Linked DNA regions of Homo sapiens: region 2 is linked to region 1. Evidence: fine-mapped expression QTL. A gene starts in region 1. The other region holds a variant in brackets. All regions are shown on one strand. Distances are between the middles of the regions.

Evidence for each region. PIP is the estimated chance that this variant, and not a neighbour inherited with it, causes the effect.
Region 2: its variant is fine-mapped to the expression of KCNA6 in whole blood (INTERVAL, PIP 0.97).

Annotation. Positions count from the first base shown.
Region 1 is chr12:4,806,266-4,811,636 of GRCh38, reverse strand. KCNA6 (potassium voltage-gated channel subfamily A member 6) reads right to left here and starts at 2,303. Exons shown (of 1, transcript NM_002235.5): 1 at 1-2,303. The coding sequence starts at 1,595. The coding sequence ends at 6. KCNA6-AS1 (KCNA6 antisense RNA 1) reads left to right here. Exons shown (of 3, transcript NR_199077.1): 3 at 4,769-5,371.
Region 2 is chr12:4,829,109-4,834,479 of GRCh38, reverse strand. It overlaps KCNA6-AS1 (KCNA6 antisense RNA 1), which reads left to right and starts at 3,709. Exons shown (of 3, transcript NR_199077.1): 1 at 3,709-4,050. It also overlaps a transcript of KCNA6 not described here. RefSeq lists enhancers at 3,730-4,231, 4,661-4,820, 4,881-5,070. The variant G/C (reference allele first, on the strand shown) is at 3,193.

The DNA of each region.
Region 1 (5,371 bases):
ATGGGTCAGACCTCCGTGAGCATTCTTTTCTCTGCATAGGCCCGATGTGGTGTAGGAAGGTAGCTGGGTCTCCGTTCCCGGTTAGCCTCGGGGAAGTCAGGCTTGCCAAGTCCGTTGTCAGTTGCCCTCAGGTCCGGCGCAGGCTGCCCACAAGTGACGTGGGTATACTGGCCTTGCTCCTCCTGCTCCGTCTCCCGGTGGTAGAAGTAGTTGAAGTTGGAGACGATGACGGGCACAGGCAGGGCAATGGTGAGGACCCCAGCGATGGCACACAGCGAGCCCACGATCTTTCCCCCCACAGTCATGGGGTACATGTCCCCGTAACCTACCGTGGTCATTGTAACCACTGCCCACCAGAAGGCATCCGGGATGCTGGGAAAAAGCGAATCGTCATCGTCAGCCTCTGCGAAGTAGACGGCACTGGAGAAGAGGATGACCCCGATGAAGAGGAAGAAGATGAGCAGCCCCAGCTCCCTCATGGAGGCCTGCAAGGTCTTGCCCAGGATCTGCAGCCCCTTGGAGTGGCGGGAGAGCTTGAAGATGCGGAACACCCGGACCAGGCGGATGACTCGGAGGATGGCCAGGGACATGGCCTGCTGCCCATTCTGGCCGCCTCCTCCACTGGCTGGTTGCTGCTCCTGCTGCTGCACCAGCTCAGTGCCCAGGGTGATGAAGTAGGGGAAGATAGCCACCAAGTCAATGATGTTCATGATGTTCCGGAAGAAGGCCGGCTTGCTAGGGCAGGCGGAGAAGCGCACCAGGAGCTCAAAAGTGAACCAGACAATGCACAGCGTCTCCACCAGAAAGAAGGGGTCTGTAAAGAAGGAGCCCCCAAGAGTACTGAGTGAGGAGGAGCCCCCGGTCCCCATTTCCCCAGGGGTGATGCCATGATGAAATGTGTAGGAATCGTCTTCATCCTCCTCTTCCTCCTGACTCCCCCTGGAAACTGGGGAGACTCGACTCACACCACCATTGTTTCCACCTCGACCATCTACACGGAACTGGGGTAAGGTCTCCAGGCAAAAGATGACTATGGAGATGAGAATGACCAACACGGAGACGATGGCGATGCCCCTGGCCGGCCCAGAGCTCTCTGGGTACTCAAAGAGCAGCCACACCTGGCGCTGGAAGGGCTGGGAGGGCAGCGGCTTCTCGTCCTCGCCACCTTCGGGCAGGCAGCCCTCGTCCTCCCGGAAGGCCGCCAGGGCCTCGTCCCCCAGCTGGTAGAAGCGGATCTCCTCCAGGAAAATGTCCAGGGGCACGTTGACCGGCCTCCGCAGGCGGCCCCCAGACTGGTAGTAGTAGAGGATGGCGTCGAAGCTGGGCCGGTTGCGGTCGAAGAAGTACTCGTTCCTCAGGGGGTCGAAGAAGCGGACTCGCCGGCCAGGGTCTCCGAGCAGCGTGTCCGGAAACAGCGACAGGGTGCGCAATTGTGTCTCAAAGCGCAGCCCGGAGATATTGATCACCAGCCGCTCGCTACTACAGCAGCCCCCGCCCCCGCCGGCCTCCGGGAAGTCTCCCGCATCCTGTTGCTCTCCCTCCGGCCCACGGACCTCCCCCGGCGCCGCCAGCGTAAGGGATTTCTCCGATCTCATGCCCCCTCGGAGGTGCGCTCCCCGCCACTAGGACGGCGCCCACGACACAATCTCTGGAGCGCGGCACCCGCTCCCCAGCTCCCGGCTGCGCCCTCTTTAGGGTGGGGCCCGCGCTCCTCCCGGTTCGCGGTCTGACCTGGCCGTTGGGTCCGTGAGCCCTAAAGCCCTGGTCCCTGCAAGGCTGGGTCTGGGGAGGTGACCTGGGCGCTGGGGATTTGGTTCTGCGCTTCCCGTTACCCGCGCCCGGGTGCTAGAGCTTACTGGGATGCCCGGAACCGCACACAGGCGCGTGTGAAATTGGCTGCCCGAAAAGACGCGTGGCTTCGCCCCCAGCGGTGCCTGAGACCCGGCTCCCGGACGCAGAGGTCCGCCCTCCAGCCGGGCTAGCTCTTCCCAGTTCCCACTGCGCTCCTCCAGCCGCTCCGGACCCCCGGCTGCCGCTGGTACCGAAGCGCCAGATGCGCCTCCCTCCGGCTCGGCAAAGACTCCTGGCGGGGCTCGGCCTCCGCCCTGCGTCCACCGCGGGGCTGGGTCCGGCCAAGGTCGCGGTTCCGGCCGCCACAGCCGCCACCTCCTCCCTAGGAGCCGCGCCGCAGGCCTCGCAGAGGGCCCGGGGCTGCCCCGGCGCCCGAGCGCGGGGACCCACCTCCCCACGGCTCAAGGCTTCGCTGCCGCCGCCGCAGCTGCAGCGGCTCGGCTCTCCGCTCTGCCCTTCCTTCCCAACACACACTCTCCAAGTGACGTGGCAGGCCCCGCCTGCTGCCCCCTCCCACCCCACTCCCACATCACACCCCTCGCCCAGCCAGGGGCTGCCGCGAGCCAGGGCGCCATGGAAATAGACGCACACTTGCCTCACCAGTAAGCTTTCCCGCGCTCTCCTGGCACGCCTCTCGCTTTCACACGTTCACATTCGCGCCCCCCTCCACAAGCGCCGGCACCCTAATACCACACCCCCTCCACCCCCGCAGTCGGCTCTTCTCATTTCAATTTACCGAGTTGACCTGCGCAGTGTATTTCATCAATAAGAAGACACACCCCGCCCCACCACACAATACGGAGCACTGTGCATCCACTCATACAGAAATCTAAAGAAAACATTAAATCATACATTCTTCTGTCTTCAGGAAGACCCGTTTGCCAACCTCTCCAATATCTACAGGAAAAAAAAAATAGAGAAAGTATTTTTGAGATGCCTTGAGAGCTTCCGATTTAAATTCCAATATAATTCTCCGTCTACCTTTGCAAGCCTGGGAGGGCGGGGCTGCAACTCTCCCAGAATTGCAAAGGGATGGTAGAGAAAGGGTGGCAAGTCAATCAATGCCTTTCCCATCAGAAGATTTCCAGGGGAGTCCTGAGAGCCTGAGGCAACAACCCCAGTGAGGAAGGACCCAGAAGATGGAAGCACCTCAGAGATACCTCAGCCCAGGGCACAGTGCACCCTGGGGATCCTTTGCTCCCAACCACCCCGAAGGATGCATCTGGAATTTCTGCTTATTGGGTGACCAAAAAAAGGGAGAAGAGGGTGAGTGGAAAAGGGGTATGTAAGAGTGTTGATTGAAAAAATAATAGCTACATTTACTGGGCATTGAATATGTGCCAGCCACATTCTAGGTGCTTTCCCAGAAAGATGTCCTCTCCTTGTAGGCCATGTTACAACAAAGACCCCTTTGGCAGTACTGGAGTAGGGCAAAGTTTGTTGTTAGGGACCAGCTGACTCTTCCCTAACTCTCCAGCAAGAAGGTGATAAGAATGGTTTTCCATCCATTTCTGTCTTTCTTCACGAGACCAGACAAGTTGGGGTCTGGTAGAGGAAGACTCAACTGATCTTTTCAGACTGACACTTCCAGGTAGGGTTGACATTTGCTTCTCTGTGCCTCAGTTTCCTCTTTTCTGGCTGGCTGTAGCCAAAATGAATTGGCTAACAACTACAAAGTGTTTTTGTGTAGCTTCTGGTGCATATTAGATCATTAGTATGCATTCATTGAGGTTAATGATGAGAATGACACATAAAGGTGCTCTCAAACCACAGGATGCATCTGAGAGTTCTTTGTATTGCACGGAGTATTTTAAAACCACAGTGGTTCTCAGCAGCATTCACTCTCAGAGAGTTGGAGGAAGGAGAGAACCAAGGCTCCTGGATGTGTCGGGAAGGGATCAGGTGTTGAGTGGGTAAGAAATGTGCTAGTATTAGAACTCACTGCATGCTCATTCTCCAGTCTTGCTCCTCACCAGTTGAGCCAGGCAACAGCCTCTGCTCCCTTTCTGTGCTTGCACAGCTGATTTCTGGCACCAACGCCCTGTGGGCTTTTTTGATCCCCCAGGATAGAAATCAAAAGAGATCACAGCATACAGTAGCAAAGAGAAAGATTTTATGAAAGCTTATGGACATAAGGGACCAAACACCAAGAAAGGAAGTGGGTTGCTCTCCAAAGTCAAGGTGTGGGTTCCCTTTGTGGAGGTCTGCAGTAAGGGGAAGTCAGGGCATGTAGAGGTGAGGTTTTTCGGGCACATGTACGGTGGCTTAAGATGCTGCTTCATACAACATATGTCTCATTAGCATCTTAAATCTCCACCTGTGGGCATGATTTTTAGTACTAAAATAAGGAAAAGTTCATGATGAGGTGAAAGTTAAGCCTAGCTAGGCACGTAGGGCCTCAGAAAGGTCCTTAGTTCTCTAAAGCAAGGGGTTAATTAATTTGTGGTTAATAGCTTCTTGGGCCTTTGATGCTGACTGGCTGGGAGTTACAGCTTGAGTAAAGGGCTTTTGTTCTTTTTTCTCCAAACCACATCACAACAGGAAAGCAGCCAGCTTGCCCATCTCATGCTTGCCTGTCTCATTTCCACTCCTTTCTCTCACCTTGCATGTTTCCGTGAAGGGAGAGAAAGCAAGTACATGGAGTCATCCAGCGGAGTTTTCTCACTTACAGACTATGTAATTAAGCCATTTAGACTCCACACAAAAGTTGCTCTGTTTAAAAAATCTTTTTGAAAGAAAAGAAAAAAAAGGAAACCAACAGCAAATACACTATAGAAGATACTCTTTACCCCCATCCAGTTATCTGTCACTTTACCCTTATCCAGTTATCTGTCATTATTTTCTGAGTCATAAATTGACTAACCCCTGATTCTTTTTGTTTTTGTTTTCAAATTCATAATGAATGATTCATTTGCAGGTTTGTTTTCATCATTGCCATTTTTATTCACGAGACTGTCAACTAGGTCAGTAATTCTTCAAAACCAATCCTGGCAAAGCATGGGAAGGAACCTTCGTTCTGCAGAAGCGTACACACCCTGATAAGGTGTCAAGAACCTCCGTTTGAGTACCCCTCGGGTTAAGCCTGACTGGGCTGCCGGCCACCCTTCAGGCAGAGCTGATGTTCTGTGATGACCTTCACATCAAGCATGAGGTCGTGCCCCAAGAAGGGTTTCACTGTGCCCAGGGAGGTTCCCCTGAGAAGGACAAGCCATTGGCAAATTCATGAATCAGAGTTCTGTTTTTAGTTCTTTTGTGAAATAGACTCATTTCTTAGCTTAAGAAAAACCCTATGCCTAGATCATTCCCCCCAAGCGTATGTTAAGGATGAGTACAATCACACCTTCAGAAATGCCAGTTCCCAGGTGAAGGAAGACACAGCTCCATCCATAAACACTGCCAAGTGGCTTCCAATGGCAGGGGATTTTTCCCCAGCATTCACCAAGCACCAATTTCATGCCAGCACAGATTTTGTTGTTATTTTTTGTTGTTGTATCCAGATTCAGATGTTTGCCATGGTCAT
Region 2 (5,371 bases), 23 kb before region 1:
TAGACATGACCTTCTTAGAAGATTAAAGTTTTGCTCACCTTTAATTCTCTAGTGCCTCACACATTATAGGCTTAATATCAATGTCTATTTAAAAAAATAAGTGGGTACAAGACACGACGTAAGTTTCTTCTTCTGCACCCTACCGGTTCCCAACCCAGCTGTCACCCCTCACTACTGCCTTTGTGCTCTCAGAACCCCAATTTTGTTCAGGTTTCTGGAAGCCAACACTTCAAAGAAGACAGGCTGGCTGGGCATGGTGGCTCACACCTGTAATCCCAGCACTTTGGGAGGCCAAAGTGGGAGGACTGCTTGAGCCCAGGAGTTTCAGACCAACCTGGGAAACATAGCAAGACCCTGTCTCTACAAAAAATAAAAATAAAAATTTATAGCCAGACATGGTGGGTGTGCCTGTAGTCCCAGCTATTCAGGAGGCCGAGGTGAGAGGAGCCCTTGGGCCTGAGACATCAAGGCTACAGAGAGTCATGATCACGCCACTGCACTCCAGCCTGGGTGACAGAGGAAGACCCTGTCTAAAAAAAAAAAAAAAATTTAATTTAAAAAAGAAGGAGACGAAGAAGGAGAAGGAGAAGAAGAAGAAGACAAGTCCCTCCCAGCCTAGGGATGACTCTAAGTTAATCATGGTAATCCTAGCCGTTGGTCTATTCTGGTTAGGACAGCCCCGCCCTAACCACAGCCTAAGGAAAGGCTCATAGGAGACAGCTGGGGAAGTTTTCCTCATCCTTAGGCTCAACCCTTCCTGCCTTCACACACTGTTGTGTGAGGACATGATGCTTGGAACTGCTGCTGCCATCTGTGAGCATGAGGCAAAAAGCCAAGCAAGTCCTAAGAACAGACTTCTTCAAGCCCTAACATCATTGGCTATGGCAGACCCACTACAAAAAATGCTTCCAATGCTCCACCTGCCCTTGGCAATGTGACCTTGAAGCTCCTCCCACGAAGAGGCAGAGTCTATTTCCTCATTACTGAGTCTTAGTCAACAGCACTGCAGCAGAAGTGACTGCACCAACTCCAAATCTCGTCTCAAGAGGGATACTCCAGGCTGCCCTGCTAGAGACATGGGAGCAACATGGGCAGGATACTGAGGCTCCCTGGCCAACAGCCACACAACCCCCAGCAGCACCACCTGATCAACCTAGAGATGACCACAGATGCATGAGGGATCACAGATGCATGAGGAAGCACAGGTGAGACCAGAAGAGCTGCCCAGCTGAGCCCAGCCAAAATTGCTGACCTGCTTGAATTGGGAGCTATAAAGTAATGGTGGTGTTTCAAACTTTTCGGTTTTTAATTGGTTAGCTATGTCACAATAGCTAACTGATGCATTACGAATCCTGAAGCTGTCCTTCCTCAAGACTCCATTTCATATGAGATAAAAAATATTCTCTTTTTTTAATGCCACTGTTACATGCAGCCTATAGTTCCCTGATATTGTGCTCTGAGGAATAAAAACGATGAGACAGGGCCCTGCCTTCAAGAAAATGGCAGCCCAACTACACTTAAGACGTATTTTCAACTAGGTTGTTGACCCCCCTGAGGTGAGGGTTTGGTGGCACATGTATCTCTAGAAAGGACTCTTACAGTCTAAAAATGTACAGCAACACAAGGTAACCTCTGCTGAGTGCAAAAGGAGTGGTCCAGTCCACATAAAGACTTCATGAAGAGCTGGATATGAGCTAGGTGGTCTTTGAAGGAGATTTAGGATTTCGAGTCATGAGGAGAGAGGGAGGGTTGAGAGAGGCAGGACCCTCTCTGGGTCTAGAAAGATGGATATTCCATAGGGATTTGTTCTGGAGACAGGTGAGTGACTAGGAATTGAATTCTGATGTGGTGATTTAGGGCATGAAGCACATAACAAGGACAAAACAGTGTCTCAATGCAGGCCTGCAAATGTTCATTCTATGAGGTGAAGAATGAACAGAGGGGCCAGAGGTACAAGCCAATGTCCTCTGCAGCCACCCTCAAAAGAGTATCAAAAAGCGTATTGTCTCAGGAGTATCAGGCCACCGCCCCATAACCTCAGATGTGACCAGGCCTGAAGGATCTCCTTCTACCTGTGCGTCCCTGCACCTCTCACTTTATCTTACCCAGTGGGCGCACTGCCGCTGGGGTGGGGTCACAGAGGAGGCCTTGAATCAATGCTGGGTTGTAGGTTGAACAAACTTCACAAGACTAGAAAATAAGTAATAGAGAGGTACTTGTTTTTTTCACATTGCCAGAGTCTCACATTTCCCTCTCTGTCTGAGTTTTCCCAAGCCCACAAGGGATGGTCGTGGGCTGACTGATGACACCCAGGCTCTCGGGGTCTGAAGAAAAGCAAAAGAAAGGCCCCTGTTCTCTGGTCCCAACCACAAACATGAGGGCACTAAATAATTCCACAACTACACCATCTTCAGAATCAGAGCACTAGGAAGGAGAGAGCTATTACTCATTTTGACCAGGAAGCCTTGTTTTATTTAGCAATGAGTATTTGCTAAGCGTATCTTCTACTCAATAGAACACCCTCACCATGTTTCTGTGAGACCAGAGTGATCCCCATTTTATACTGGAGGAACACAAGGTGTATGAGAAATGTGCCCAAGATCTCAATACTAGTGACTCGGAGAGCCAGGGTTTGAGCCCAGATCAGTCTGATACTGAGACCTGTGCTCTCTCTGTATATAGTATGCAAGAACTATCATTTCTTCAAAGTCTGAGCTGAATGGAAGCTCTCATAAGAGATTATTTTCAGAAGCTCCGTGTCTTAGCCAAGGGAGTAAGTGAATTAACACACTGGACTCCAAAATCCAGCTCTGTTATAAAGTAGTCATAGTAGCCACGTGGCCTTGGGCCAATCAAGTCATCACTCAGGACCCCAATTCTTTTTGGCATTTACAAAAGGAGAAAGCGGAGCTGGAGGATGGATCCGACCCCTTCCAGCTCCCATGGCTGGGAGGTTTTCCATCTCTCCCATAGAGAGGCTAGCCCAGACTGAACCAGAACGTTTTTTTCCTGACTAACGGTTTCTAGGAAAGAGGCTCATGCTGGCTGGCTCTCAGGCTCAACCCTGGTCCAATCCACTGTCAGCAGGACGGGGTCAAGCAGGTACTAACTTGGCTGGCTGCTTGTGGGTGATAACGAGTTATTGTGAAGGACTCTTGGGCCCTCTGATAGCTGCCTGACAATGCCCAACCA[G/C]AACAGTAAAGATCCACCAAGCCAGCCGCTCCGGGCCACATGCAACTTCAAGGACCACTTTGTGCATCTGCACCAAGGCTCCCTCTGTTTTGAGAAAGGAGAGCTCGTCGGTCCCATATTCCTCCGCAGTCCTTGCAAATCCTCTCACCTGGCAGGAAAGCCACTTAGGGTTGTTGTATAAGAGGAGGAGGCACAGCGGAGACCAGCTTTGTTGGCAGAGAGCTTACCTTTCCTGAAAGTCAGCGCTGAAAGATCAAAAGTCACTGAGGACCCTGCTGACTCCCCCACACCAACTCACAAAACCAACAACCCGTGGTGGGCAGGGCCTGAGAGAGGAAAGTGAACGATATCCTGCAAAAGTCTGCTAGGGGGTGGCTTCGTCTCAGTTGCAAGGCTGCTGAATAGGTAGGTAGGTAAAGGCCATGGGGAGAATCAGCATTTGGAACTCTTCCCTGGGTGCAGCGCCCCTGCCCGCATTGCCTGCAAGGCAAACCCCGCCTTCTCCCGCAGCCTCCCACTCCGCCCAAGCAGCCCAGGGACAGAGGCTGCAGGATTCTGACACAGGAAGTCTACAGTCACTGGGAGCCTCTCCAAGATACAGCCTGTGTGAAGGAAAAGGTCTGGACAAGGAGAGGAACAGTAAAGAGAAACAAAAGTCCTCGGTTTGAATGAGGAGAGATTTTGAGCCCGCAGCGGGTTGCGGGGTGGAGGATGGCGGAAGGGGCAGATGCCGTTACCGGGTTCTGTTTCTCTTTCGCTGGCCACCTTGTTAAGCTCCCATTGGCCAGGTGTCCGGAGTGGGACTCACCACTGCAGGGGGCTCCAGCCCCACACAGCCGCCTCCCAGGAAGGACTCAGGTGGGCTTTCAGGTTATCCGCGGTGGGATGCAGGGGTGAAGGAAGCTTTGGTGGTGGATGTGAGAATTTGGGATGGGGGTGTGGAACTTTACTGGCTCCTGCCATGCAGCGTGCACAGTGCTTTCTGCAGGATGGCATCGAAGGGGCTGGAGCTGGGGGGCAGCACGTCTCTGTCCTCAGACCACGGTGGAGGATGTGGACTGTCCAGGCTCCAAGCTGTCCATCCCTCAGTGCCATGACCTAACCGTTAAGTGGGATGGAGCATGGGAGGGGAACGCAACTGCACCTTTCAGAGAGAGGCCCTCTGAGCAGGAAGAGTGGCTGCAGTAGAAAAGATGTGGCTGAGAAGGGGAAGAAAGAGCCTCGCGAGCATCAGCACTAGGAGAGGCAATTGATTTCATCCTGTGAGTCTCAGGGGAGTGGAGGCTGCCCCTTCCAAAAGAACTGGCAGGACTGGCCATGAGCCAAGTAGGGAACAGCTGCTGCTGACTGAGGGAGAAGCTGTGCAGCCTCGGGCAATTCAGTCAACCTCTCTCGGCCAAGGACAATATAATAATGCCTGCTTTACTGACCTTAGTGAATTGTTACGATGTTCAATGGTGAAAGAGAGTTGTAAAATGTGAAGTGCAATTAAATGTATAGGTGCGATATTATCAGCAGAACTTCTTGGGCTGGAGGTACCCAACTATGGCTGCACACAAGAACCTCTAGAGACTTTTTTTTTTTTAAATCCTGAACTTGGAAACCACCCTAGATCAGTTATTCAAATTAGGGCAGGCAGTGAGCAGAAGGACAGGAAGTGGTACTTTTTTCAAAAGAATCTGGTGATGCTGATATCCTATGAAGGTTGAGACCTGCTACCTAAGACTTCCCCAAAATCCATGAAGGTGATCACTCAGAGCACATGTTTTTTAAAAAGGCATATTCTCAGGCTTCTCCCAGATCTTCTGAATCAAAATTTCAAGGGGTCCTGGCAACCTCTATATTTAGCGAGCAATAAGAGCAATGTGGACACGTTATGCCAGTGAAAAGTTTGTCGATTAGCTCCTTTTCTACTGGATAATCATATCCAGCAATGCTTCTGGACAGCACAGGCAAATCAGCTCAAGGAGGGGAAGCACCCTCCTCAGACGGTAAGTACAGACATGCTTTGGGGGGATGGGGTTACAGTAGACAGCCAAATCCCATCCTATTCCTGCTCCACCGGGGTGAAACTCCAATTATAAAATGACACATTTCCCAGCCAACGTGCCTGGGAACCTTAAGATAAAAAGGAAACGATGATGAGTTATCTATAACTAACAGCATCAATTATGAGTGC